2 linked regions of the Homo sapiens genome follow. Each later gene encodes a partner of the first gene's protein in a complex. Links are inferred from orthologs where the notes say so. Each region holds a gene or a part of one and is shown on either strand. Other genes may lie near its edges.

Region 1 (14,673 bases):
TGCCAGCAAGGCAGTGACCCAGCGGTTTCGCGAGGATGCCCGGGACCCAGTTACTAGATTATGAAGGCATCTCAGGCCCTGGAGCCAGAGCCAGTCAGGGGTTAAAGTGAAAGCCCGTATTTCCGCCCAGAAGCTGGGGTTGGGGAGAGGATGTGGATTTTTTGTTTTACCCTTTCTGTTGCATGGTTGCAAACACAAACTTGAGTTCTAATAAAGAATTGCAAAGTGGAAGCCCGCCCCCCGCCTCCCCCCCGCCTCACTTAAGTCCAGGAAGCTGGGGTGGCGAGGAAGGATGATGTGGATTGTTTTTGTTTTACACCTTCTGTTGAATGGTTGCCAACACAAACTTGAGTTCTAATAAATAATTGCATTTCCCTAACGTCTGTATTTTGGAAGGTAGAGGGGAGGGAAAGGCGCATTCCTCCAACAGCCCAGTTCTGCCCTGCGCAGCCCTCTACCTCGAGGCAGGTGGGGCCTGTGGTTCCTAGCCGCCCGAGGTGGCCATCTTCCCCGGCTGTGGTCCGGTGTGCCCCTTGTACTCCTTAACCGCGCGCATCTGGCTTTAACAGGTGAGAAGCCTCTCTGGCCCACTAGGAAATCTCTCCAAGCCCGCTGTCGTTCTACTCAAGGTGACTTGGGATGAGAAAACTGGGTCGCTTGGGGGCCAGCTGGATTTGGAAGGCCCTGGGTGTATTGCTACTCTGTCACAGAACACTTTCTCAGCTGGGGAAAATGACATCGGGGAAGGGGGAAACGAAGAGACCCGAGCTGCACTCTTGGGCTGCACTGTTGCAGTCTTCAGGTCTTGCTTGGGTCACCCACCTTCCACGAAGGTCGTGGACACCAGCAAGATACAGGCATCGGCTACTCTTTCCTCAGTTACTATGGCAGCGAGAAGCCCCAGCAGAGAACACTTTGGCTTCCCTAGGGTCACAGCTTTGGTCAGGGCGCTGGGATGCAGGTCCCTGAGCCTGCGAATTAATCTAGAAGGATGCAAGCCAACAGCTGGGTGCTAGGATTAAACAATAGCACGCAGTAATTCTATAATTAGGATTTTTTTTTTTTTTTTTTTTTTTTTTAACCAACCAAGAATCACTGGTAATCTTCATTTTATTTTGGAGACAGAATCTCTCTCTGTGGCCCAGGCTGGAGTGCAACGGCTCGATCTCGCCTCAACACAACCTCTGCCTCCTGGGTTCAAACGATTCTCCTGCCTCAGCCTCCCGAGTAGCTGGGACTACAGGCCCGCGCCACCACGCCCAGCTAATTTTTGTGTTTTTAGTAGAGAAGGGGCTTCACTATGTTGGCCAGGCTGATCTGACTTCAGGTGATCCACCCGCCTGGGTCTCCGAAAGTGCTGGGATTACAGGCATGAGCCACCACGCCCGGCCAATCACTAGTAATTTTTAAAAGTTCAAAGCTAACTTTAAATATAAGGTGAATGTCTATCAGACTCTTTTTGTCACCGCTAATTATCACTCCAGTTTAAAATAATCATGTATCTTACAATAAGGGAATTACCACATAAAGCTGAATTTACAATAACTTATTAGCAACTTTTAACCGCTAATCATTTTATTAAAATAGTTGACTAATTTTAGAAGAACTTTAGAACACTTTAAATTCAAAATCAACACAAAATCAGTTTCAAATGAGGCTACATCAGAGCAGAGCTAAAACTTAATGTGTATGTTGTCTTTCTCTGTGTAATACCCACCTTACCAGAATGTCAGGTTCTCTCCTTTACAAGCTGTTTTCACTGTCCTTGCCCAAACTCAGTGTTACCAATCTATTTTATGTTCATGTGTAACTTTTCTACTTTTTCTGATATCTACCCCCATTTTAATTAAGTAGCTTTATAGACTGTTTTAATATTTAAGAGGGCAAGTCTACTCTTTTTTTTTTTTTTTTTTTTTTGAGATGGAGTCTCACTCTGTCACCCAGGCTGGAATGCAACGGCATTCCACTGCAACCTCCACCTCCTGGGTTTAAGCAATTCTCCTGCCTCAGCCTCCCGAGCAGCTGGAATTACAGGCGCCCACCACCACACCTGGCTGATTTTTTTTATTTGTAGTAGAGACTGGGTTTCACTATGTTGGCCAGGCTGGTCAACACCTGTCTCAGCCTCCCAAAGTGCTGGGAATACAGGCCTGAGCCACCATGTCCGGCCCTCACAACCTTTTCAACTCATATCCAAAATATCTATGAACATCTTTCCCGGAACTGACACTTTAAGTTTCACCTATTCATATGGCTGCTTCTTTCTCTAAACACCCAGTAAATGGAAACTCTATATCATGCTGGAATTATAGATGCCATCAAGCCAAGCCAGCTGCCCAGCATGGAGGAACAGGAGAGGTTGCCCTATGCCAAGAGTCTTGAGAGTCAAAGATTTCAAATATTGCCCAAATATAGTCATATTCTGAGGTACTGGGGATTAGGACTTCAATATATGTTAATGTGTACAAAGGATGGAAGGAGTTTAGGATCATACAGTATTTTTGGAAAAATTAGAATAAGTTTTAAGCTTACCCCTTTTTCCCCAATAACAAAATATTTAATGGGCCAGGTGCAGTGGCTTATGCCTGTAATCCCACCACTTTGGAAGGCCAAGGCAGGTGGATCAGTTGAGGGCACGAGTTCGAGACCAGAATGGCCATTCTCTACTAAAAATACAAAAATTAGCCAGGCATGGTGGCAGGTGCCTGTAATCCCAGCTACTCGGGAGGCTGAGGCAAGAGAATCGCTTGAACCCGGGAGGCAGAGGTTTCGGTGAGCCGAGATTGCACCATTGCACTCCAGCCTGGGTGACAGAGTGAGACTGTCTCAACAAAAACCCAAAATGTTCAATGGTTTTATAAAAATTCCACCAGGGGTCAGGCACGGTGGCTCACGCCTGTAATACCAGCACTTTGGGAGGCTGAGGCAGGTGGATCACGAGGTCAGGAAACCGAGACCATCCTGGCTAACATGGTGAAACCCCATCTCTACTAAAAATACAAAAAATTAGCTGGGCGTGGTGGCACGCACCTGTAATCCCAGCTACTCAGGAGGCTGAGGCAAGAGAATCGTTTGAACCTGGGAGACGGAGGTTGCAGTAAGCCAAGATCGTGCAACTGCACTCCAGCCTGGGTGACAAAGCGAGACTCTGTCTCAAAAAATAAAATAAAATAAATAAATAAAAATAAAAATCCCACCAGGGCCAGGTGCAGTGGCTCACGCCTCTAATCCCACCACTTTGGGAGGCCAAGGCAGGAGAATCACCTGAGGTCAGGAGTTTGAGACCACCCTTGCAACATAGTGAAATCCCGTCTCTACTAAAAATACGAAAATTAGCCAGGTGTGTTGGCACATGCCAGTAATCCCAGATACTTGGGAGGCTGAGGCAGAAGAATTGCTTGAATACGGGAGGCGGAGGTTGTAGTGAGCCGAGATCACACCACTGCACTCCAGCCTGGGTAACAGAGCGAGACTCCATCTCAAAAATAAATAAAAATAAACAATAAAAATCTCACCAGGAAAGCTGGGCACGGTGGCTCACGCCTGTAATCCCAGCACTTTGGGAGGCTGAGGTGGACGGATCACGAGGTCAGGAGATGGAGACCATCCTGGCTAACACAATGAAACCCCGTCTCTACTAAAATACAAAAAAAAAATTAGCCGGGCATGGTGGCGGGCGCCTGCAGTCCCAGCTACTCGGGAGGCTGAGGCAGGAGAATGGGGTGAACCTGGGAGGCGGAGCGTACAGTGAGCCGAGATTGCGCCACTGCACCCCAGCCTGGGGGACAGAGCGACTCCATCTCAAAAAAAAAAAAAAAAAAAAAAAGGAATGAATAAAGAAAAATGTAAAACTGAAACAAAGAAAATATTCAACATCACCTCTAATCAAAAAAGCACAATTAAAGAGACTTGTGAGTTTAAAACGCTTGCAAAAGGCTAGAATACTTTATTGCCAAGGAGTGAATAAATTCCATGAGTCAAACCAATCCAAACTGTGCTTGAACCCACAGGGCTTTTGGCACCTTTCGCCCCAAAAATTCTACTTCCAGAAAGTGGGGCGGCAAGGATAGGAGCTGTTTTGCAGAGATTGGTAATTTCAGTACAACACGTAGTGGAAAAACAACCTGGCCCATGCCGGACACCCGTGCAGCCTCGCCTTGTAGAAAAAGGTAGACAGCCGGCTCCAAGGCAGGGCGCCATCCACGAGCCAAGGTGCCTGGGAACCCTGCTCTTCCGTGGTAAATCGAAAACTACCATTAATGAACGCTGACCGCCCAGGCTTGCTTCTTGCAACGTCATCCTCTGCCCAATGGATGCCCCACTCCAGGAAAACGCACAGCTGGTGCTCTTCGGGGGATCAATTACCAGCTTCAAAGTGAGAGCCTCAGATAAGCTGCTTTAGTAGTATGTGTGAGCTCATCAGAAATGAAATTTTAAGCCCCACCCCAAAAGTACTGAATCAGAATTCTCTGGAGAAGGAGCCAAGGAAATTGTGTTTTAACAAGCTCCCAAGGTGATTTCTTACAAGCTTTAAAGTTTGAGGACCAATTATGTAAAAACAAAACAGATCACCATTTGTGAGGTTATCTGCCCCTGCATATCCGCTCCCTGTGGGTGAGGGCCTCTCTCTGACCAGAAAATCATAAAAGGATTAGGAGTTTCAAAATGATGGGAATTCAGGAAAAAAAAACAAAAACAAAAACCTACAAAACTATCACCTGCCCACCCTTCATATCAAAACATGAGTGGGAGTCAATCTTTTATAAATTTGCTTTATTATAAGTGTGTGAAGATCTTAATGCTTTTGGCAAAATAGCCATTTCTTTATTAGAATAGTTCAAACTCACTCTTGCAACAAAATAAACCACAATCCATCAAGACACAGGAAAAAGGAATACGGGGATTTAAGAATGCTATACTTGCTTTTCTTCAACTTTAGCAGCAAAAGTTAGAAAGTTAAGATGTTCCCAACAGTAACTATGTTGTCTTAAGCAACAGGATCCTGGGGAGAGTGGGGGTCTGATGCATGGGCCTTCAAGTTCTTCTCAAGGTGTTTCATCTTCTCAGCTGGAAGAGAAGCAGTTGATACTAACCATGGACAGGGACAAGTGTTTGCTGTTTCGAACTACTCCGTGACTGGGAGTTGGGGAGGAGAGAAAGATCTGCGATAGTGCTGTAACCCAGGTGAGGCTGACTTGGGCAGTGATGGGTCTGAATCTATCAGATCTCTGCTGACTTTCCCAAGGTCCTACCCCAGGATCCCCTCCCAACAAACTTCGTACAGCTAGCTCCCTGGGGTCTGGAAACCAAGAAATTTTGAGAAGGTTAAGGGAGGATGGAAGGAAACCGAGCAAGGCCAGTATGGTCACTCGTGGCTTCCTCCACATGCAGGTTCTCAAAGACCCTCACCTCGGGCACGATGTTCTCGGTGAAACCATGCCAGGCACAGGAGCATGCTCTTCACCCGATTCTGTACACGGGGCCGCCCGAAAACGGTGATTTCGACTAGGTTCCCTGAGTCCACTATGTCCACTGTCAGCAGGGCCTGGCTCGTCCACTCCATTTCTGGAATTATGGCTCGGTCTGGGCCTAAACAAGTAAGGAAAAACTCTGAGGGGCTGCACGGTGGCAGGTTAGAAGCTGGATTTGAAGGGAATGTTGGCCAGGGAAGGGAAGAACTGGAAGGTGGGCATCACTGCAACACTCCTGGCTTGCGAATCTGGGAAAGAGACTGTAGAGAGCTGCTCTGCCAAGCCTCTCTCAGACTGGAGGTGGACAGCCCACTAGCACACCTGGGGTCGCTCACCAAAGAGCTCGTCTGCCAGCCATGCCTCTAGGTAGAACACCAAAGGGTCTCTCAGTTCCTGCACCGGAAACCACCAGGGCCGGATGCGAATCTGTGGCGGCGGAAGTGGTAACCTACGCAGCTGCTCCAGGGAGTGGGCCGGAGTCTGTTTGCCCCGCTGGGACTCAGCGGCACCAGCATCATCGACCATACTGGGACCAGCAGCCGCGGAGCGCGCTCGAGGCGGCTTTCGCAAGACCTCTTCCAGACCCAGGCGCGAAGCTCGGGCTCTCTTTTACCATATTCGACCCGCTCCGCCCCTTCCGGCGGCGCCTCGCACCGCGTCGGGGTGAGCGGGTGCAAGCGACGCCCCGGCATAGCGGCACCATTGGACACTTCCTGCGCTGCTTCAATCGCCGGGATTGCCTCTTTGACCTTGAACTAGTATTCATTTGGCCTCCTGTTGGGTCTCCAATGCTCTCCTTCGTCATCTCTGCTCGTAAGGTATGCTTAGCCTGAAAGTCCTCTGCCCACCTTATAGCTGATTAACAGTGTGAGTTTGAATTGACGACTCTATTAATAGACTGGGAATCACCTTTGCTGGCTAGGTTAAGGTTTCATCGTTGCCTCCCAAAGATAGGTATATCGGACCCAGGGCAGGCTTGTTCAATGTGTCAGTTTTCTCTGTTCTGCTCCCTGTTGTTATCTTCTGACTCTCCGGATGGTTACCATTTTTAAATCATTCAAGCAAGTGTGTCATGTTTTAAACAACACGTCAGAGGTGGTCTTATAGAACATGTAGCAAGTTAGACAATTTTCCTTTATTTCCAGTATCCTAAGACAACCATTATCGATGGACATTTTTTCCCAATGTTTGTAATTTTAATTAAAAATTTGGATTATGAAAGGTTTCACACATCCAAAAAAGTAATATAACACGGCCATGTACCCTCCCCGAGTTTAACAGATGTTGACATTTCCCCACATTTGCCTCACTCCTCTGTTTTTAAAACAGATATTACTCAAGCATCTTTCCTTTCCTTCTCCAGAGGAAATCATCCTGAAGCTAGTGTGTATATATCATCCCCATGCATGTCCTTACACATTTTCTACTATATTTGTAGAAATATTGTTTGGTTGTTTCAGAATAGTATCTGCTGAATATACTATTTCGTTCTTACAATTAACTATGTGTTTGTTTTAAAACTTCTATTTTTCTGAGATAGGTCTCACTCTCTTGCCTAGGCTGGAATGCAGTGGCACGATCTCGGTTCACTGAAGCCTCGACCTCCCAGGCCTAAGCGACCCTCCCATCTCAGCCTCCTGAGTAGCTGAGACCACAGGCACCTGCCACCACACCCAGCTATTTTCCAGCTCTTTTTGTTGTTGTTGTTGTTTGTCTGTTTGTAGAGACAGGGTCCCACTATGTTGCCAGGCTGGTTTTGAACTCCTAGGCTCAAGCAGTCCTCTCACTTTGGCCTCCCAAAGTGCTGGGATTACAGGCGTGAGCCACCACAGCCAGCATAGAAGAAAAAACTCAAAATAGTGAAAAGCATGTTCCAGACTCCACATGATCATCTAGGACTGTGTGGAGGTTCCAGTTTTCTGCCCCTGATCCCACCCCCTCTCACCCTCAATGGTTTCTGAGAAAACTTGACTATCAGGTGTGCAGGGCATACTTACAGGAAAACAAGATTTAGCTATGGCTCTGATGCAATAAACATTTAAAACCTTAACCTGGCCAGGCAAGGTGGCTCATGCCTATAATCCCAGCACTTCGGGAGGCCAAGGCAGGAGGATCACTTGAGGTCAGGAGTTTGAGACCAGCCTGACCAACATGGAGAAAACCGGTCTCTACTAAAAATACAAAAATTAGATGGGTGTGGGCCAGACACGGTCACTCATGCCTGTAATCCCAGCACTTTGGGAGGCTGAGGCGGGCAGATCACCTGAGGTCGGGAGTTCGAGACCAGCCTGACCAACATGGAGAAACCTAGTCTGTACTAAAAATACAAAAGATTAGCCGGACATGGTGGTGCATGCCTATAATCCCAGCTACTCAGGAGGCTGAGGCAGGAGAATCACTTGAACCCAGGAGGCGGAGGTTGTCGTGAGCCAAGATCACACCATTGCACTCCAGCCTGGACAACAAGAGCAAAACTCTGTCTCAAAAATAAAAAAAAATAAAAATAAAAAAATTTGGCCAGTGTGTGGTGGTTACCTGCAATCCCAGCTACTCGAAAGGATGAGGCAGGAGAATTGCTTGAACCCCAGAGGCAGAGGTTGCAGTGAGCCAAAATGGCACCACTACACTCCAGCCTGGGCTACAGAGTGAGACTCCATCTCAAAAAACAAACAAAAACCCCTTAACCTAATCAAGGCCAGATATTGTGGCTCGTGCCTGTAATCCCAGCCCTTTAGGAGGTGGAGGCTAGCAGATCGCTTAAGCCAAGGGGTTTGAGGGTGCAGTGAGCCATGATCACACCACTGCACTCCTGCTTGGGTGACAGAGCGAGACCCTAAAAATAAACCTAAAAAAATTAAAGCCTTAATCTAATCATGAGACGCACTTACATTACTGTAGACAAAGAATATTTTACCCAGCATGTATAGAATTTTAACAGCTTCTTTAGGGGGACTGTGGTGATCTGAGCCACACAGGAATAAGTTAACTTCTCTCAAATTCCACTTCCTGGTGTGGAAAAGATGGCACCCCATTATCTTGTGGGGATCTTCTGCCATAAACCCCACATAAATCCCCAGCATGCTGGACACCGTGAAGCAGTTAGTCTCAGATACAACTCAGTCTCAGGTGTAGCCCAACAGTGGCTAGTTCAGTTATTTCTTCCTCAAGGAAGAAATGATCCTGTGGGATTACTGCTCTCCCCTGAGGAAAGAACCTCCCTGCTCAGTGAGAGGCCAGAATCTGATTCGCAAGTGTTGGTTTCGCATCTCTCAGCTTTGGGGAGACCGATAGGCCTTTGCACCTGAGCCTGCCAAAACAGGAGGGCTATTGTGCAAGAAAACCTTTTGGGAGCTCAGTCAGTCACGTGGGCCTCCTTGGAAGCCTGGGGACAAGTGGGCAGTTTTCCCGAGTGCATGGAAGCCAACACCAGAGACTGAGGTGGAGAGATGCACTGAGCCAACTTGGCTGGGTTAATAGAACACTTTTCCCGCCATCTGGGTTAGCTTCTTGGGGTGCCAGGGATCCTGCAGTGGGCCTGACGCCAGCCCGAGATCAAAATGGGAAAGCGGCCAGAGCAAACTGACGTTTCACAGAGCTCTTAAGGGCCGGAAGATTCTTTCTCACCTTCTCTTTTTCTTTCCTTTTTTTTTTTTTTTTTTTTAAAAACGAAAGGCCTCACATATTTATTACTGAATCCAGCCAACCAACGTGTTCATAACAGATTCAGAGAGGAAAACACGTCGAAATCTCCAGATAGTGGTGACATTTTCAGCTTGATATGGTAACATGATCGTGACCTTCAGACAGCATAAATATGTGTGCCATCTCATGTGCAATTCCTTATAGACCCAGCTTGGTTCTTCTCCAATGTCTCCTTTTGGAGTTGTACCTGATTTTATTTCCAGTTTTCATCCGAATCCACTGGGGAATGGGACGATTTTGCTTTTGTTTCTTGGCCAGGAATCGCTTAATCCTGAAAGTCTTGTGAGAAGACATGGCGAGCAGCGGAGTCAAGAACACACCACGATGGCGGAGAAAGGAAGAGGGCTCCTTCTCTTCTTTTGTTTTCTTTTTTGAGACAGGGTCTCACTCTGTCACCCAGGCTAGAGTGCAGTGGCACGATCTCAGCTCACTGGGTAGCTGAGGCAGGTGCATGCCATCACACCCACTGTAGAGACAGAGGTCTCCCTATGTTGCCCAGGCTGGTCTCGAACTCCTGGGCTCAAGCAGTCCTCCTGCCTTGGCCTCCCAAAATGTTGGACTACAGGCATGAGCCACTGCAACTGGCCAGGGCCAGAAGATTTTAAGTATGCAATTATTTTTTATTTATTTATTTATTTAGAGACGGAGTTTTGCTCTTTTGCTCAGGCTGGAGTGCAATGGCGAATCTTGGCTCACTGCAACCTCCGCCTCCTGGGTTCAAGTGATTCTCCTGCCTAGGCCTCCCAAGTAGCTGGGATTACAGGCATGCACCACCACACCCAGCTAATTTTGTATTTTTACTAGAGGTGGAGTTTCACCATGTTGTCCAGGCTGGTCTCGAACTCCTGACCTCAGGTGATCTACCCACCTCGGCCTCCCAAAGTGCTGAGATTATAGCCTTGAGCCACTGCGCTTTGCCAAAAATATATTTTTTAAATATATTTTTAAAATATATATACATGCCTGTAATCCCATCACTGGGAGGCTGAGGCGGGAGGATCACTTGAGCTTAGGAGTTTGAGACCACCCTGGGCAACATAGAGAGGACCTGTCTCTACAAAAAATAAAATAATTAGCTGGTTGTGGTGACATGCGCCTGTAGTCCCAGCTACTCGGGAAGCTGAGGAAGGATAGCCTGAGTGCACAAGGTCGAGGCTGCAGTGAGCTATGATTGCACCACTGCACTCTAGCCTGGGTGACAGAGACCCCATCTCTAAAAAAATAAAATAAAGATAACGTACAATTTTATGTATTTTTTTAATGGAGGAAAGGGGCTCCATTAAAAGTACCTGGAGTCTATGAAAGTCGTAATGCCTGGCTGCCTTCATCCAGTGATGTGGAACCCCAGAGGCCCCAGTATGACTAGGCCCTTTCCAGGACCCACTCCCATGTGTTTGCCCAGCTTTCCACTTCTGTGGTACAGAGCCAATCAGATCTACAGGACCAAAACTTGAAGCCAATCCCAATCCTACCAGCAACAAATGATGATGGTTGCAGAGATGGTAAAGAAGGCTTAGATTCCAGGCCTGCCCCCAGCCCTGAAATTGTAGTCAAACACATACTTCTCCTTTCACCTTACCTTCTCTGTATATTTGCCTGTGTGATCATAGTCTGGAGTTTTTTGTTTTTGTTTTTTGAGATGTGGTTTCACCATATTGTCCAAGCTGGTCTGGAACTCCTAGGCTCCAGCAACCCTCCTGCCTTGGTCTCCCAAAGTGCTGGGATTACGACATGAGCCGTGCCCAGCCTAGCCTGGAGTTTTTACTGGAACTATTAAAATATGTCTCCTAATCGTTGTTTTGATTTACTGATGGGGGAAGGGAGACTGATCTCATACTTAACTATTTATTTACTTATTTATTTATTTATTTTTGAGACAGAGTCTCGCTCTTGTCGCCCAGGCTGGAGTGCAGTGGCGGGATCTTGGCCCACTGCAACCTCCACCTCCCAGGTTCAAGCTATTCTCCTGCCACAGCCTCCTGAGCAGCTGGGATTACAGGCTCCTGCCATCCATTCCCGGCTAATTTTTGTACTTTTAGTAGAGACGGGGTTTCGCCATGTTGGCCAGGCTGGTCTCAAACTCCTGACCTCAGGTGATCCACCCACTTCAGCCTCCCAAAGTGCTGGGATTACAGGCATGAGCCACCACACCCAGCCAACTCTTCTTTTAAAAAACAGACTTTCTTTGCTGACATACTTGAGTAGCTTTGGTTGTATTTAAGGTGAAGCTGAGCTTTCTAACCATTTCTAGAATCCCCTCCAAGGCACCTCTTTACTAAGAGAACTAACCTTTTCCCAGCTGAGAGAACAGAAAGTAAAAATTAGATTAGTGAGCCTAGAGGGATGGCTCAGGCCTGTAATCCCAGCACTGTGGGAGATAGGAGGACTGCCTGAGGCCAGGAGTTGGAGACCAGCCTGGGCAGCATAAGGAGGCCCTGTTTCTACAAAAAAATTAAAAATTAACCCGGTGTGGTGTCTCATGCCTTGTAGTCCCAACTACTCTGGGAGCTGCAGGCAGGAGGATCCCTTTAGTCAAGGAGTCAGAGGCTGCAATGAGCTATGATGGCACCATTGCACTCCAGCCTGGACTCTCTTTTCCTTATATATAAAACATATATATGCTTATATATAATATATATAGCTTATATATTATATACAGTATATATTTATATAAAATTAAGTTTTATATAACTATATCCTGAGAGAAAAGAGAAATCTGCCATCATTTATAGCAGGTTGAGACAGACACAGATAAAACCAGCTGCAAAACTAAATTTCTCCCAAAGACATGCTGCAGCTGTAAATTGTCATAATGATCTCCCTTTTTTTTTTTTTTTTTTGAGATGGAGTCTCACTCTGTTGCATAGGCTGGAGTGCAGTGGCACGATCTCTGTTCACTGCAACCTCTGCCTCCCAGGTTCAAGTGATTCTCCTGCCTCAGCCTCCCGAGTAGCTGGGATTACAGGCACCCGCCACCACGGCCAGGTGAATTTTTGTAAAGACGGGGTTTTACCATGTTGGCCAGGCCGGTCTCGAACTCTTGACCTCAAGTAATCCACCCACCTCAGCCTCCAAAAGTGTTGTGATTACAGGTGTGAGCCACCGCACCCAGCCGATCTCCCATTTTTGAATGACTATTATGTTCTTACTCAGTGAGAAACATTATTCTCTAAAATTACAGACTATCAGAAAATGTACTATTTAAATTTATTTATCAGTAACAATGAAACATCCATTCTTGCCTGGAGGATCTAAGTCACTTTATTTATTTTTTAATTTTGTTTTTCTTTTTTCGTTTGTTTTTCTAAGTCACTTTGATACAGAGAAACAGCCTTAATTGACAACTCAGTCGCAGCTGTTTTGGACAAGGGGTTGTTTTTTTTTTTTTTTTTTTTTTTTTTTTGAATACAACATTCCACATCTATCTCAATTAAGGACCCTGGGTTCACTTCACTGTCAAGATCTGATGCTGATCCTTATACATACAGCCCAACGAAACATGATTTTATTTATTTATTTATTTATTTGAGACGGAGTCTGTTGCTCAGGCTGGAGTGCAATGGCAAGATCTCAGCTTACTGCAACCTCCACCTCCCGAGTTCAAGCAATTCTCCTGCCTCAGCCTCCAGAGTAGCTGGGATTACAGGCGCCCACCACCAAGCCTGGCTGATTTTTGTGGTTTTTGTTTGTTTGTTTGTTTGAGATGGAGTCTCACTCTGTCACCCAGGCTGGAGTGCACTGGTGCGATCTCGGCTCACCGCAACCTCCACCTCCCAGGTTCAAGCGATTCTCCTGCCTCAGCCTCCCAAGTAGCTGGGATTACTGGTGCCTGCCACCATGCCTGGCTAATTTTTGTATTTTTAGTAGAGAAGAGGTTTCACCATTTTGGCCAGGCTGGTCTCGAACTCCTGACCTCAGGTGATCCACCCGCTTTGGCCTCCCAAAGTGCTGAGATTACAGGCGTGAGCCACTGCACCCAGCCCATGATTTTATTTCTCTCTTCCTCTCTTCCCTAAAATTGTAAAAAAATTTATTGTTGGTGAGATGCCCTATGGTTCTTTGGCTACATCCTTATATAATTGTGTTTTACCATTAGACTTCCATTTTCTTTCATTGTGCCATTGCCAGTTAACACAATTAGCTAGACATATGTGGTCTTATTACCATGGGAGAGAGAAACTGACTACAATCTTAAGCCAGCCTTGGTGTAAACTTTAAAGGCACATCCAAGGAAGTTTCTAGAGCTGTTCTATTTGCTGAAAATATAATCCTGTGAAAACTGTAAAGATGAGACACAAACTGGAGCCAAAACCTCAAGACCCCTTTTAAATGTAGGCAGCATGTTTTGCTTCAGCTGAGAGAGAACTATAGGGCTCTGCTCACAAAGCAATAGGGGTGAGTAGTTTCTGGGACGGCTTTATTATCTGCCTCAGGAGTAGATAAACAACCTGCTCATGCATGCAAGTCACCACACCTCGAACTTTCTCAAGTTCTCGTGAATATACCATTTCTACTTTATGAGTGAACTGTGCTATGCAACTTCCTCTCTACTCAAATGTTTCTCTGATATCACCCAAGATGTGATAGGTATTTGTGGCCTCAAAATTAACTCATGTAAGTGAGTTTGTTGGGTCTGGTTTTGAACAACATACTGTAAAAAGCCAGCAATATTTTTATGTATTTATTTATATTTACTTGTATTGATTCATTCATTCATTGACAGAGTCTTACTCTGTCACCTAGACGGGAGTGCAGTGGCATAATCACAGCTCACTGTAGCCTCGACCGTCTGGACTCAAGCAATTCTCCTGCCTCAGTCTCCTGAGGAGCTGGAACTACAGGTGAGTGCAACCACACCTAGCTAATATTTTTTAAAATTATGTTTTGTAGAAACAAGTTCTTGCTATGTTGCCAAGGTTGGTCTTGAACTCTTGGCCGCAAGCGAGCCTTCTACCTTGGCCTTCCTGAAGTGCTAGGATTATGGGTGTGAGCCACCACCGCACCTACAACCTATAGCTGTACCAGGCAGCTTTCAAGTTAAAAACCTGAGTTTTCACCAAGTAACCCTATTTAATTTATGCCAAATGCTCCAGCCTGCATATATTATTGTTACAAATTCTTCTTCTTCTTCTATTTTTTTTTCTTTTTTTTGAGATAGTATCTCACTCTGACACCCAGATTGGAGTGCAGTGGCATGATCTTGGCTCACCACAACCTCCACTTCCAGGGCTCAAGCGATCCTCCCACCTCAGCCTCTAGAGTAGCTGGGATGACAGGTGTGTGCACCATGCCCAGCTAATGTTTTTGTATTTTGTTGTAAAGATGGGGTTTCTTCATGTTGGCCAGGCTGGTCTTGAACTCCTGAGCTCGAGCAATCCACCCACCTCAGCCTCCCAAAATGCTGGGATTATAGGCCTGAGCCACTGGGCCGAGCTACAAACTCTAAGATCATCTGAGCCAGCAGTTCTCAAATGTTTGGGTCCCCCTGCTCTTAAAAATC
Region 2 (16,007 bases), on another chromosome or scaffold:
AAAAGATTCAACATTACTCATCATCGCAATCTCACTGTGGTTTTGATTTGCATTTCCCTCTAGTTGGAATGGCTACTATCAAAAAAGACGAAAAATAAATGCTGGCAAGGATGCAGAGAAAGAAACTCCTTTCCACTGTCAGTGGAAATGTAAATTAGCACAGCCATTATGGAAAACAGTGTAGCAGTGTCTCAAAGAACTGAAAATAGATTAATACCCTATGATCCAGCGATCTGGTGATTTACCCGAAGTATATCAAAGGTATGTCTGCACTCTCATGTTTACCACCCCACTATTCACGATAGCTAAGATATGTAATCTACCTAACTGTCCATCAACAAATGAATCAAGAAAACGTGGTATACACACACAAGGGAACATGTTTCAGCCTTCAAAAAATCCTGCCATTTGTGACAACACAGATGAGCCTGTAGCTCTTCATGTGAGCTACAGCCTGTAGTTCATTGTGTGAAGCAAAATAAACCAGGCATGGGAAACTAAATACTGAATGTATTTTACTCATATGTGGGAGTTAAATTGAGCAAATGGGACTATGGAAGTAGGGGATGTAATTGTGGGTATTAGAGGATAGGGGAGAGGAGGGAGAGGGGAGAGGGGAGGTTGAGAGGAGGAGGGGGGAGGAGAGGAGGGGAGAGGAGGGGGAGGGGGAGGGGGAGGGGGAGGGGAGGGGGGGAGGGGAGGGGGGAGGGGAGGGGGGAGAGGAGGGGAGGGGGGAGAGGGGGAGGGAGGGGGGAGAGAGGGGGGAGAGAGGGGGGAGAGGAGGGGGAGAGGAGGGGGAGAGGAGGGGGAGAGGAGGGGGAGAGGAGGGGGAGAGGAGGGGGAGAGGAGGGGGAGAGTATGGCTCATGGGTGCTAAGATTACAGGTAGAAGGGAGAAATGGGTGCAGGTGTTCTGCAGCACTGCAGGTGAATATGGTGAACTATAACTTATTGTCCACTCTCAAAAAGCTAGAAGGGAGGACAGAGTGTTCACAACACAAATGTTTGGGGTGATGAATATGCTAAGTCCCCTGATTTGATCATGATACATTGTATACAGGTATCAAAATATCACTCGGGCCGGGCGCAGTGGCTCACACCTGTAATCCCAGCACTTTGGGAGGCCGAGGTGGGTGGATCACCTGAGGTCGGGAGTTCAAGACCAGCCTGACCAACATGGAGAAACCCCATCTCTACTAAAAATACAAAATTAGCCAGGCATGGTGGCAGGTGCCCGTAATCCCAGCTACTCAAGAGGCTGAGGCAGGAGAATCGCTTGAACCTGGGAGGCAGAGGTTGCAGTGAGCCAAGATTGCACCATTGCACTCCAGCCTGGGCAACAAGAGCGAAAATTCATTTCAAAAAAAAAAAGTCTCCATAAATATGTACAGTTATGTGTCAACTAAAATAAAGGAAAAACTGCAGCAAATGTATCTATTTTTGACAAAGATCAGGGGTCAGCAAATCTCCCAGAAGGAGCCAGGCATTTTTGGCTTTGGGGCCATTTGCTCTCTGCCACCCGTGCTTAGCTGCTCCTGCACTGGGAAAGTAGCTGTAGACAATTTGTCAACAAAGGAGAAAAGCTGTGTTCCAATAAATCTTTATTTACAAAACTGGGCAATGGGCTGGATTTGACACAAGCCCTACAGAGAATCCCATAAGAATGTTACGTGTCATTATTAAAAAGTCAAAAAACCGACGCTGCTGAGGTTGCAGGAAAAAATGGAAAGCTTATACACTGTTGGTGGGAGTGTAAATCAGTTCAGCTATTGTGGAAAGCAGGGTGGAGATTCCTCAAAGAGCTAAAAGCAGTAGCGTTGGACCCAGCCATCCCATCACTGGGTATATACACTAAGAGGAATATAAAGCATTCTCCCATAAAGATACATGCATGCAAATGTTCACCGTGGCACTGTTTACAATAGAAAAGACATGGAGTCAACCTAAATGCCCATCAAGGACAGACTGGATAAAGAAAATGTGGTACACGTACACCATGGAATACTATGCAGCCATAAAAAAGAATGAGATCATGTCTTTTGTGGGAACATGGATGGAACTGGGGGCCATCATCCTAAGCAAACTAAGACAGGAACAGAAAACCAACTACCACATGTTCTCACTTATAAATGGGAGCTAAATAAGAACACATGGACACAAAGAGGGGAACCACAGATACTGGGGTCTACCTGAGGGTGGAGGGTGGGAGGAGGGTGAGAAGCAGAAAGAAATAACGACTGGGTACTGGGCTTAATAACCTGGGTGAGGAAATAGTATGTATAACAAACCCCCATGACACAAGTTTACCTACGTAACAAACCTTCACATGTACCCCCAAAACTAAAAAGTAAAAAAAGAATGTTAGCTGTCAGCACTTCCGTTCAGTTTTGTACTCTCTCCCTATTCTTTATATCTGATATTCCACTATTATTTATATTTACCTAATTTATATTTGATAGGAAAGCAATCAGATAAAGAGGAGGTATAAAAGTGGAAAAAGGTGAAAATTAACATCTGTATGTAGGTATGTATGCCTAATAAATTACTCAATTTTAAATTATATGTAGTTATTAAATTGGGCTGGTAACAAATGTAACGATGAAATCCCACACAAAATCTAATAACCAGTTAAACGTGAGATCAAATGAACAGCAACTATAGAGGTAAAACATGCATAATTTAGAAAAGTGGCTATCTGTTTTGAGAGCTTTAAAATGCGGCTGCTAGATAAAAGGCTCAATGTGGTGAGGCAGAGGCAGATTCCCAACACATCAGTCATCCTCCATCAGTATAATATCATCCAAGAAGTACTGCTGATATTGTTATCAGGACAAGAAACTCAATGTTTCTATGAAAAGCCAAAACTAGACAAGAAAATTCTAAGAAGAATGATATTCACTCTGTTGATGTCTAGGCTGCACTTTAACATCTACGATAGAAGGTCACCATTTCCGGGGGCTAAATTTTGAAATATTTATGTTCATGAATTCCTACTTTACATTTAGCCCCCAAATAATGAGCAAATGGAATAGAAGGTCTCAATCGAATGGTATAAAAGAGACAAGATGACAGATTAATTCAATACAGTACCCTCCTCACTCCAGAAAAACAAACAAATCTTTAAAGTCCCGCTGAAAAAACTGCTGCAAATAAATTTGAGACATGACAAAGAATGCATTACGTAAACAGCTCTTCCAATCCATGATAATGATCAACAGCTCAGCGGAATTTTTTTTTTCTTTGAGATGGAGTTTTGCTTTTGTTGCCCAGGCTAGAGTACAGTGATATGATCTCAGTTCACTGCAATCTCCGTCTCCTGGGTTCAAGTGATTCTCCTGCCTCAACCTCCCCAGTAGCTGGGATTACAGACACCCTCAACCATGCCCAGCTTTTTTTCTTTTTGAGACAGAGTCTTGCTCCGTCGCCCAGGCTGGAATGCAGTGGCACCATCTCGGCTCACTGCCAGCTCCGCCTCCCGGGTTCCTGCCATTCTCCTGCCTCAGCCTCCCGAGTAGCTGGGACTACAGGCGCCCACCACCATGCCCGGCTAATTTTTGTATTTTTAGTAGAGACGGGGTTTCACCGTGTTAGCCAGGATGGTCTCGATCTCCTGACCTCATGATCCACCCGCCTGGGCCTCCCAAAGTGCTGGGATTACAGGCATGAGCCACCGTGCCCGGCCTAATTTTTGTATTTTTAGTAGACAGGGTATTTCGCCATGTTAGTCAGGCTGGTCTCAAACCCCTGACCTCAAATGATCCACCTGCCTCGGCCTCCCCAAGTGCTGGGATTATAGGCATGAGCCACTGTGCCCAGCCTATTAGAAGGATTTTGAAGAGTTAAAAAACTGCATATGACTTTTGTAATCCCAGCACTTTGGGATCCTGAGGCAGGTGGATCACCTGAGGTCAGGAGTTCGAGACTAGCCTGGTCAACATGGTGAAACCGCATCTCTACTAAAAATACACAAATTAGCCGGGCATCGTGGCGTGTGCCTGTAGTCCCAGCTACTCGGGAGGCTGAGGCAGGAGAATCGCTTGAACCCGGGAGGCAGAGGTTGCAGTGAGCTGAGATCTCACCATTGCACTCCAGCCTGGGCATAGAGTAAGACACTGTCTCAAAAAAAAAAAAAAAAAAAAAAAAAAAAGAAAAAAGAAAAAAAAGAAACGGCATGACTTTTAAATGTACTTTAAAAAAAAGTTATTACTGATAAGGTAAATAGCCAAAATGATGTACTACGTTTGACATGTGAGGCTGACAATGTCCACAATGTGTGACTGGACGCTGCTTTGTGATGGGTGAAGGAAAAGGTGCTCCTACATTAGTGAAGTGTAAATGGGTGCCATCTTTTTGGACGGTACTTTAACAATCTTTATCCGTTTTAAATGCAATTAGACCCAGCCGTGTGTAAAACAGCAAGACTGAAGACCATTTAGGAGTCGATTAAAAACAGGTGGGTTAATTTGAGCACCAACGTGCCCTGCATCCTTAAAAATGCACAACAATCAGCACAGAAAGTTGCCCCATCTGTAAGGCTCTTAATGCCATACACGTGCGCAGAATGTCTTTGGGTGATGAGCAGAAAATAGGGAAGAGACACTACGGGGGCAGGGAAGGACACACTTCCCGCCACACCTTCTCATATTGCTGCTCTTTCAAATTAATACTGAAAAAGGCCGGGCGCAGTGGCTCACGCCTGTCATCCCAGAACTTTGGGAGGCTGAGGTGGGTGGATCATCTGAGGTCAGGAGTTCGAGACCAGCCCGGCCAACATGGGGAAACCCCGTCTCTACTAAAAATATGAAAATTAGCCGGGCGTGGTGGCGGGCACCTGTAATCCCAGCTACTCGGGAGGCTGAGGCAGAATTGCTTGAACCTGGGAGGCGGAGGGTGCAGTGAGTAGAGATCCAGCCATTGCACTACAGCCTGGGCAAAAGAGGGAGACTTTGTCTAACACATACACACCAAAAATCACCAAATACTAAAAAGTACCTCCCATTAAAAAATCATTTTAGTAGAAGATAAGTAGACATAAATGAATTTCATCAAAACAATTGAGGTATTCTTACAATTACCCATCCATGGAAGACCAAAAAACTAGGTACACGTGAACACTGATGATAGAACATTGAAGTTTATGTGCTGTATTGCTCAAAATAGAACCATAGCAAGAAAATAAGCTTTTCTACACATTCCTATAAATATTTAGGGACAATATTGACTATTGGTAAATGGAAAAATACTTATTTCTGAGCACATGTTTAAAAGCTTACATCCTGACCACAGAACAATTAAGATTTTCTAGGTTTTTCTCCCCCTTCTGAGTTAACATAAACCACCTGGATACATGGAAATTGAAAGCAAAACACAGAAGACAAAGACTCTCAACTTAGGCAATGAAATTAAGAAGGAAGGTTATTTGAGAAAGAACGAATTTCGGACTGTCATATCTAAACACTTCTATATACACGTAATTTGAATTAAACATTTCCCTTACCGCTCTACACAATCCTTTAAAGGGGCTGGAGGACCAAGACGTGAACCAGGGCTGTAAAAACCAACAAAAGCCTCAGGGGTGGGTAAGGAAACGAGTATGGTCTAGGGACAGTGATTTTATTTTTAAGATGAGGTGATTGAGCAGGTTCATACATTCAGAGCTGAGAATAAATAAAGGTAGAAGAAGCAAGAAGACGATGAAGACTTTGTCTATATCCTGTCTTAGGTGACTCAAAGCATTTCATTTAAACTTTATATAGCATATATATATATATATATATATATACACACACACATATATATATTTATGTGTATATGTATTTTTTTTTTCTTCTTGAGACAGAGTCTTGCTCTGTCGCCCAGGCTGGAGTGCAATGGCGTGATCTCAGCTCACTGCAAACTCTGCCTCCTAGATTCAAGTGATTCTCCTGCCTCAGCCTCCCGAGCAGCTGGGATTACAGGAGCCCACCACCACGCCTAATTTTTTGTATTTTTTTTTTTAGTAGAGGCGGGGTTTCACCATGTTGGCCAGGCTGGTCTGGAACTCCTGACCTCAGGTAATCTGCCCACCTCGACCTCCCATAGTGCTGGGTTACAGGCGTGAGCCACCACGCCCAGCCTTACATAGCATATTAATACACACAGGGCATCACCGTCCTCACTCCAGGGTTCAAAGCTGAGGTTCTGTGGTGTTGACTGGGTTGCTCTGTTTCAGGGGAAAGTACGTTAATGCATACAGGATGATAACGCCTGGTATTTGCCAGTTGTCAGAGTGGGAACTGATCAATCAAGCCCCAGAGAAAGATGACTGGACGGCCTAAGGATTAATCTGGGATAGGCAGTCACTTTTTCCCGTGAAGTCGGGTGGGTGAGGAGTTGGGGAGAAGCTAGTTATTCGAGTCCAGGCAGGAATACAGCTGGAGGGAGGTAAAGGAAGGCTGCTGGTTGAGGTTATTTTCTGAGGATGAGTGACTTCCCTAAGCTTGCATTTTGTCTCTATGCTTTTTCTACAGACCGTACCCCTCCCACCTCACCTTTCTACCCAGGTGTCCTGAATGATTAGAAAGCAGCAGTTAAGATTATAGGGCTTGAAGTCTCAGACCCAGCTTTGAATGATTTGCTGCTTTCTACCCCAGGCAAGCCATTTAACTTATCTGGGGCTCAGCTTCCTCCCTTGGTAAACAGGACAAACAACACCGTCAGAATTGTATGGCATTTCAATAACTAAGTTACGGTTAACCATAGTATTTGCACAATTAGCACCAAAACACCCTCTGGACTCCTACCAAATGCAGACCAGACATTAGCTAATCCTGACATTCAAGTTGCAGTACCCCCTACTCTGTACTTAATTTTTACTTGAGACGAAGTCTCACTCTGTCACCCACGCTGGAGTGCAGTGGCGTGACCTTGGCTCACTGCAACCTCTGCCTCCTGGGTTAAAGCGATTCTCCCGTCTCAGCCTCCCTAGAAGGTGGGATTATAGGCACATGCCACCACGCCCAGCTCATTTTTGTACTTTTATTAGAGATGAGGATTTCACCATGTTGGCCAGGCTGGTCTTGAACTCCTGACCTCAGATGATCCACCTGCCTCGGCCTCCCAAAGTGCTGGGATTATAGGCGTGAGCCACTGCACCCAGCCCTCTGTACAGTATTTTAGACCGAATGTCTGAAAAGGACGAGAGACTTACCTAAATACCCCAAGTAAATATGAGGTTTTAGAGGAAGATCTTTTCAGCAAAATGGGGTAACTGGACTTTGTTCTTTCAAGGAATCCTTTGGTCCTGGGCTTTGAGCAGCCAGAAGGGAGAGGGTGGGGGCACCTAGTAAGCTCAATACGCGGGTTCTAATCAGCAGTGGAGAACAAAAGCGGGAAGGGCAGAGAGCAAGACAGGAGGAATACTCACCAGCTTCACACCTCACCACCAAGAGCAGGTCCAGCTCTGGGCCAGCTGGCAATCACGGAAAAAAGAAGGCCACGCCCAGCTCCACGCCCACGTGGCGATAGTTCCTGGGGAGCGCTGAGCCAGTGATGTTGCTGCTGCTCATTGGCTGCAACCGGCTCTGAACCACCAGCCCCAGGGAACAGGCACTTTTCTGCACCTGTGTGCACCACTTACAGGTGCTGCTGCTGGCAAGAGGCTGCCTTTACCACCACACACCTGTGCTGAGGGCGCCCGGATGCTCACAGCCTTCAGCTGGCTGTCCTGAAGCAATTAGTGTGTGTGTGTGTGTGTGTGTGTGTGTGTGTGTGTATGTGAGAGAGTGTGTGTGTGAGAGAGAGAGTGCATGTGTGTGTGAGAGAGAGAATGTGTGAGACAGAGACAGTGTGTATGTGTGTGAGAGAATGTGTGTGAGACTGTGTGAGTGGGTGTGAGACAATGTGTGTGAGACAGAGAGTGTGTGTGTGTGAGAGACTGTGTATGATAGAGTGTGTGTGTGAGTGTGAGTGTGTGTTGGGTGCCCTTATTTTACATAATCTGGAAGTTGCACTTGGCATTTTTTAATTTTTTGTGTATTGACAAATTATAATTGTATATTTTCCTGGGGTCCGGTGTGATCTTCTATGTATACAATGTCAAATGATTAAATCAAGCTAACAAACACATCCATTGCCTTGAATACTTATTTTTTTGTGGTGAGAACACTTGAAATGTACTCTCTTAGTAATCTTGAAACAGAAGTTTATACTTTTGATAAAGTCCCATGTATTTATTTTTAGTTTTTTTTGATGTGGAGTCTTGCTCTGTGACCCAGGCTGGAGTACTCAGTGCAAACTCCACCTCCTGGGTTCAAAGAATTCTCCTGCCTCAGCCTCCTGAGAAGCTGGGACTACAGGTGTGTACCACCATGCCCGGCTAATTTTCAGATTTTTAATAGAGATGGGGTTTCACTATGTTGGCCAAACTGATCTCGAACTCCTGACCTCAGGTGATCCACCCGCCTCGGCCTCCCAAAGTGCTGGGATTACAGGCATGAGCCAGTGTGCCTGGCCAAATGTGTTTGAAAATTCCATTTGAAGAATTTATGGTGAATGCATTTTAAAATTTATGGTCTCTCCTTAGGTCATGAAGGTCTTCTGATTAGTTTTTAGAAAGTGTAGTGTCTTTCCTTTCATATTTAGATTTATACTATACTTGGAATTAATTTTGTATATGGTATGAGGTAGGAATTCAGATTTTTTCTTCTATGTAGGAACAATCAATTTAGCACCATTTGTTACAATACTACCCTTTCCCTAGTCTTTTGTAATGTCAGCTTGTCAGAAGTCACGTGATCATGTTTATGCCCTTCTGTTCTGGACTCTATTCTGTTTCCCTAGTATATTTCTCCAATCTCTAATTACATGTATGGAAAATACCATACTGTGCTAGTTATCCTGAACTCTTTGCATTTCTTTTTTTTCTTTTTCATTTTTATTTTTTTGAGACAGAGTCTCACACTGTCACCTGGGCTGGAGTGCAATGGCATGATCTCAGCTCACTGCAACCTCCGCCTCCCCAGTTCAAGCGATTCTCCTGCCTCAACCTCCCTAGTAGCTGGGATTACAGGCGCCCGCCACCACGCCTGGCTAATTTTTTGTATCTTTAGTAGAGACGGGGTTTCACCATATTGGTCAGGCTGGTCTCGAACTCCTGACCTTGTGATCCGCCCACCTGGGCCTCCCAAAGTGTTGGGATGACAGGCGTGAGCCACCGCGCTTGGCCACATTTCTTCATATACTTTAGAATTTGCTTGTAAATTTCCACTAGAGTACTTTGGGAATTTTATGGTAATTGCAATAACTTTATGCATACAGCCAAGGAAAATTGTCATCTTTGAAAGACAGTGTTCCCATTCATGAAGTTTGTATATTTCTCCATTTATTAGGTATTCTTTAATTTTTTCTTTTGAGATAGGGTCTCACTCTGTTGCCCAGGCTGGAGTGCAGTGGTGCAAGCACGGCTTACTGCAGCCTCGAACTCCTGGGCTGAAGTGATCCTCCCCACTTGGCCTCCCAAAGGGGTGGGATTACAGGCGTGAGCCACTGGGCCTGGCCATGGCACAACTGTTGTTTTTTTTTTTTTTTTTTTGGAGACAGTGTTTTGCTTTTGTTGCCCAGGCTGGAGTGCAATGGCGCGATCTCGGCTCAACACAACCTCCACCTCCTAGGTTTAAGGGATTCTCCTGCCTCAGCCTCAAAAGTAGCTGGGACCACAGGCATGCACCACCACGCCTGGCTAATTTTGTATTTTTAGTAGAGACGGGGTTTCTCCATGTTGGCCAGGCCGGTCTCAAATTCCTGACCTCAGGTGATCCCCCCGCTTCGGCCTCCCAAAGTGCTGTGATTACAGGCGTGAGCCACTGCGCCCGGCCACAACTGTTATTGTTTATTCCTATTTGAGATTATTGACACCAGTATAAAAGAAATTTTATGCTTTTAAAAACTGCTTAATAGTACATAGTAATACATTTTATTTTCATATATCGAGTTGTTGTGTGTGGGATCTTACTAATTCACTTTTTAATTATTATTTTTTAATCCCCAGGGTTTACCAGGATTATCAGTTCTTGTTCTATGTATGTAATCACATTGTTTGTGAAAAATGACAGTTTTATTTCCATCTTTATAATGTTGTGTTTATTATTCCTCTTGTTGCCCTGTTACACTGACTAGGACCTCCAGTGCAAAGTTAAATAAAAGTTGTAATAGTGGTTGGGTTTTTTGCTCTCATTTTTATCTTAGGGAAAGAATTTTCACAAATAGTGAAATATTAGATTAAATTAACAATAAGCATGTTAGCAGTAATTTTTTAGAAGCCCTTCCTCAAATTAAATAAGTCACCATCGGTTCCAAGTTTGCCAAGTGTTTTTTAAAAATTGCAAATTGATGTTGAATTTTATCTTTTTTTTTTTTTTTTTTTTTTTTTGCATCTACTAGGTTGGTCTTCCTGAATCTGAAATAGTTCCTGCCAACTTTGTGTTCTTGTTCTGTCATGTCACTGAGGCCCTGCTGTGTTTATCTCAGCACGTTCCATCCACAGGCACATGATATCCATTTGTCTTCTTATTGGTGATGTTAACTTTGAGTACTTGGCTAAGGCACAATCTACCCTGTTTTCCCACTACTCTTACTTTGTAATTCACATGTAGTTTCTGGGGAGAACCTTAAAGACTCATGTGAGTACATCGAGTCTCCATCTACTGGTTTCAGCACCTTCTGATGGTTTCTCTACCACCACATTTCGTCTTTCATTTATTTGCTTTTTTTTTTTTTTTTTTTTTGAGATGGAGTCTCATTCTGTCACCCAGGCTGTAGTGCAGTGGCAAAATCTTGGCTCACTGCAACCTCCACCTCCTGGGTTCAAGTGATTCTCCTGCCTCAGCCTCCCAAGTACCTGTGACTACAGGCATGCACCACCACGCCCGGCTAATTTTTGTATTTTTAGTAGAGATGGGGTTTTACCACGTTGGCCATGCTGGTCTCGAACTCCTGACCTCAGATGATCCACCTGCCTCAGCTTCCCAAAATGCTGGGATTACAGGAGTGAGCCACCGCACCTGGCCTACTTTCAAAATATTCTTTTTCTTTTGCAATTGCCCTATGCTGCATCTCCTTTGCTGTGTATCTGTTGTTTAAATTCTTTTAAATGAAGACAAGAACCAAGGTCTCACGACTGTCATCCACATTTCTACCATTATTTGGTTTGATCATTAAATTATTCCAGATTTGGCCGGTGGGAACTCATTCAATCAGGCTCCTTGTTCCTATTGCTATGTCCCCATTATTATTATTATTTTTCAGAGACAGGGTCTCACTCTGTTGCCCAGGCTGGAGTGCAGTGATGCATCATGGCTCACTGCAGCCTTGAGATTCTGGGCTCAAGTGATCTTCCCACTTCAGCCCCCCAAATAGCTGGGACCACAGGCATGCGCCATCATGCCCAGGTGATTTGTAAAACATTTTTTAATGTAGATGGGGACTCCCTATGTTGCCCAGGCTGGTCACTAACTCTTGGGCTCAAGCAACTCTCCACCTTAACCTCCCACAGTGCTGAGATTACAGGTGCAAGCCACTGGCCTGGCCCCCATTGTTCTCTGAGCATTGTCTTACTTCTGGCACAAGATGTTCCAAGCCCATTCTGTACATTCCCAGCACCAACTGTGGAGTCAGCTCTTTCTCTGAAGATTCTTGGTTCCTTTAATGAGGAACGGTACTTAGAAAACAATACCTGAGCACCAGTGTGCTGTTTCTATGATACCATTGTTTCTACACTTAAGTTTCTTTTTCATGGCTGAATAGTACTCCATTGTGCGTAAGTACCACATTTTCTTTATCCATTCATCTGTTGATGGACACTTAGGTGCTTCCAAATCTTGGCTATTGTGAATAGTGCTGCAATAAACATGGAAGTGCAGATATCTCTCTGATTTACTGATTTCTTTGGGGTATATACCTAGCAGTGGGATTGCTAGGGTGGAGGTTGAAGACCCCAACTGCTCTGGCTTTTGAAATAAAATTTCTTCAGAATTAAGAAATCAACCTGGGCCGGGCATAGTGGCTCACACTTGTAATCCCAGCACTTTGGGAGGCCAAGGCAGGCAAATCACGAGGTCAAGAGATCAAGACCATCCTGGCCAACGTGGTGAAACCCTGTCTCTGCTAAAAATACAAAAAAATTAGCTGGGAGTGGTGGTGCACACCTGTAGTCCCAGTTACTCAGGAGGCTGAGGCAGGAGAATCACTTGAAGCTAGGAGGTGGAGGTTGCAGTGAGCCGAGATTACACCACTGCACTCCAGTGTGGTGACAGAGTGAGACTCCATCTCAAAAAAAAAAACAAAAAACAAGAGAAACCAACCTGGATGATACCTGATCATTACATTGTAAAAAGATGGCTGTTTCAGAAGGGGAAAAAAAACATTGTGATTGCTTTCTAGATCTTTGAGTTTTAAATGCTGCCATAACTAATTTAAGAATGTAGTAGTTAGTTAGGACCTTAAAAAGTTAAGAGTTACACTTCATTTTTAGAGCTCCTTAAACATGAGGTGATTTCCTTTTTCCAGTACTTGCTACATTTATTATCTTCCTTAGAAGTTCCTTGTGCACACTTTCCCCAGACACGTTAAGAACAGGTTTCTTCCTTAACAGTTGATGGACCAGTCTATTGGTAAATAAATCACACTCTAAAAAATTTCAAATTGCATTCATGCATATTTTTAATTAAATTTTTCTAATACCCTTGAAGATATGAAGACATATCTCCAAGAGATGTTTACATGACATATTCAAAGACATTCTGGTAGCCAGGAGTAGATGTGGGTTGGAACTCACCTTACCTTGGTGCCCCCAATGCAGTGACTAATCTATGTGTTAACACATGACACTCCATAACATTGATGGAGCTATTTGGAGGTCATGCCCTACACCAGTTCCCAGAACGAATGGAGCCATTCCAGAGTCAGGACGGCCCACAAAATAGGCAACTGTTTCCCAATTTCTCATTAGGAAAAAAAAAAAATACCCAGAGGGCCACCAGATCAGTCACCAGAGGGTCCAGATCGATTCATCTCTATTGCTTCATCACAGCACTAAGAATTCCAGTCCTGTATTATCTTCAGGAAGTCTCCTTCCACTACAGGGCCCTCCAGTCTTGCCAGCATATCCACTTCATTGCTGTCTTTCTTCTCCCTGGGAAGGATAAAAACAAGGTTTTGTTTTCTTACATTTGGTTTTCTTTTGCAGCCCCAAAACAAAGAGACAGAACCTCTAGAACAGAAATTTACCACCTAGGAGACCACCATGGCCCCATGCAGTAGGTCAAGACAAATAGGAGCACTCTTAGGAGCTCAGGAATGAATTCAAAGTGCCTTGGGGTTCAACCAAGACAGCCCCCATGATCCCTCCTCCTACAAATCACACCCTTGGATGGCTCCCTCTCTCACTGGACCAGGGCTGGACCATGGCCAATAAAACAAGGCAGACGTGATGGGACGCCACTTTCAAGATTAAGTAATAAAAGACTGTGGCTCTGTTTTGAGCTGTCAGTCATCTCTCTCTGCCACCATCTCCCTCTGCCTCTGCCTCTCTCAGCCTCTCGTTCTGGAGGAAGCCAGCTGCAATGTCATGAGCAACTCCCTGGAGAACAACTGAGGCCCCCCCGCCGCCCACAGCCACACAAGTGAGCCTGGAAGCAGATTCAACAGCCCTCATCAAACCCCAGCCAGTGGCTCAACTGAGACCTCGGGAGATACCATGAGCTAGAACCTCCCAGTTACATCGCTGTCGTATTTCTGACCCTCAGAAATTGTGTAAGACAATACGCCTTTATGTGGCTTTAAGTTACTAAGCGTTGAGGTAATTCACTGCATAGCAATAGACAACTCATACACCAGGAAAAATTGTATCTTTCACCCAGAACCCACCACTGGTTGAGAACATGTGTTAGGCACTGTGTTAAGTGCCGTATGTGCGACTTTTCTTTCAGTCATTATAAAATCTCCATGGGAGAAGACACCATCCCAATTTTATAGATTAGCAAATTGAGGCTTAGAAAGATTAACTTGTTCATGGCTATATAGCTGGTAAGTGATAACAAACTCAGCTGTTCAGGAAGAAAAGGTGAAGAAATGAAGAAAAGAGAAGACAAAGACAAGAAAGAAGATATCAGATAGGAGAATCCCAGTTAATGGTTCCTTTAGGTAAAAGTGGGAGTTGGGGGTTTGAACAGCTACATTAAGGGAAATATAAATCCCCAGGAAACAAAAGCAGAATGGTAGCAACACCTGAAACAATAGCATTCCAGGTCCACAATCTCACTTTCTATTTTAAGAGACAGGGTCTCACTCTGTTGCCCAGGCTGGAGTGCAGTGGTGTGATCATGGCTCACTGTAGCCTCAACCTCCTGGGCCCAAGTGATCCTCTCACCTCAGCCTCCTGAGTAGCTGGGACTACAGGCATGCACCACCATGCCTAGTTAATTTTTCTATTTTTTAGTAGAAGACAGGGTTTTGCAATGTTGCCCAGGCTGGTCTGAACTCCAGACTCAAGCGATCTGCCTGTCTCAGTCTCCCAAAGTGCTGGGATTACAGGCATGCACCACTACACCCAGCCCAGCATCTCACGTTTTACAAGGAGCTTCTCTTGTGTGGTAGGTTTTGCACAGGAAACCCGGTGGAGACTTACAAAATGACCTCTTCTCTCTTCTTTTGGCTTGAGAAGGCCTCGCACAAGGTCAGAATACCATAGACTCCAATCGCATTCTTGCTCAAGTCCAGATGTCTCAGATGTTGGTTTTTGCGGAGCATGGAAGCCATGGCCTGGCAGCAGATGGAGGTGAACAGGCAGTTTTCCAGCCTGTGACACAGAAACAGACAGCAGACAGCAGAGAAGTCATCACAACTCATCTGAGAGCTCAGCCGGTGTGACGGCTTACAGCCAAGAAATCACACTGACAGGAATGTGTAATGTTGTTCCAACTATGGTCTATTCACCTATAGTCAATCAGTTTCTTTGTGTCCTTTTGGTGATTTCAGAGCAGGCTATAGTATTCCTCACTCTAAGAATTTATGAGCCAAGTATATCTTTCGAAAATGGCTTGTACCTACTTATCTTCATTCATTCAAAAGATATTTGATTCTACCTAGTGGACATTTTTGACACAAGAGTGAGCAACACACACCATCCTTGCCTTCCTGTAACTCACAGTTGACTGGGCAGGGTATTGAGGGAGGAGACAGGTAACAAAATACATGTATTCAAATAGCATGGTTTTATTGTCCTAATGGGCCAGGTGTTTGGATCTTTTTAAAAAAAAATTTTTTTTGGAGACTGAGTCTCACTCTGTTGCCCAGGCTGGAGTGCAGTGGTGTGACCCTGACTCACTGTAGCTTCAAATTCCTTGGCTCAAGCAATCCTACTACCTAGTAGCCTCCCTAGCAGCTGGGACTGTAGGCACATGCCACCACACCCAGCTCAAATCCTTCTATAAGTAAGTCACTTTGCCCTCCCACACAGTACTCACTGAAAAGTTGGGGAGGCACATCTACAAATAAGTGACCATGTCTCAAAGAGGTGCCGTGTATCATAAATACGATGCCGGCCCATAAGAGTCCTTGAACAAAGAGTAAAATTCATGGATTATTAGATTAATGGGTTAACGGGTTATCATGGGAGTGGGATGAGTGGCTGTATAAGAAGAGGGAAAGAGATCTGAGCCAGTATACAGCATGCTCAGTGACTCACTAGTGACCCTGCAGAGAATCCCCCCAGCACTAAGGCTCTCACCAGATGCAGCCCCTCCACCTTGGACTTCTCAGCCTCCACAGTCCTTTTCTTTATACGTCATGCAATTTCAGGTATTCTGTTATAAGCAGCAGAAAACAGACTAAGACAGATAGGGTCCATGAATTTTACACTGAGCCAAGTTACTGCTCATGACCAAAACTAGATTAAAAAATAATCTCAGTAACTCGCCATTTAACATTACGTATATCTCCAAATGCTATCCCTCCCCCCTCTAAAACTTAAAG

The links.
Region 2: the proteins of OOEP (region 1) and NLRP5 are in contact, whole or in part, in a cryo-EM structure (PDB 8H93), measured with the Mus musculus proteins. The link is inferred for Homo sapiens from one-to-one orthologs. Residues at the interface, in NP_080756.1 of Mus musculus: Ser26, Leu27, Arg28, Leu29, Arg30, Thr31, Arg32, Ile38, Val41, Asn43, Tyr48, Met49, Leu75, Leu86, Glu88, Pro95, Thr99, Lys102; in NP_035990.1 of Mus musculus: Glu173, Leu176, Leu195, His196, Gly202, Leu206, Asn322, Leu325, Glu326, Tyr337, Ile338, Leu339, Val340, Glu341, Gly342, Leu343, Ser344, Ala345, Ser346, His373, Asn625, Gln626, Asp652, Ser655, Glu661, Leu662, Cys663, Pro664.

The regions. Positions count from the first base shown.
Region 1 is NC_000006.12:73,363,797-73,378,469, forward strand, and holds OOEP (oocyte-expressed protein homolog), read right to left. Parts: upstream 6,102-14,673; 5' UTR 5,997-6,101; coding exon 5,807-5,996; intron 5,590-5,806; coding exon 5,410-5,589; intron 5,068-5,409; coding exon 4,988-5,067; 3' UTR 4,759-4,987; downstream 1-4,758. Other genes in the region: KHDC3L (KH domain-containing protein 3), read left to right, coding at 1-64. UniProt on the Homo sapiens protein: Component of the subcortical maternal complex (SCMC), a multiprotein complex that plays a key role in early embryonic development.
Region 2 is NC_000019.10:55,978,219-55,994,225, reverse strand, and holds the start of NLRP5 (NACHT, LRR and PYD domains-containing protein 5), read right to left. Parts: upstream 7,452-16,007; 5' UTR 7,405-7,451; intron 6,413-7,404; coding exon of another isoform or gene 6,313-6,412; exon of another isoform or gene 5,597-6,312; intron 1-5,596. Other genes in the region: NLRP8 (NACHT, LRR and PYD domains-containing protein 8), read right to left, coding at 13,068-13,167, 14,662-14,832. UniProt on the Homo sapiens protein: Component of the subcortical maternal complex (SCMC), a multiprotein complex that plays a key role in early embryonic development.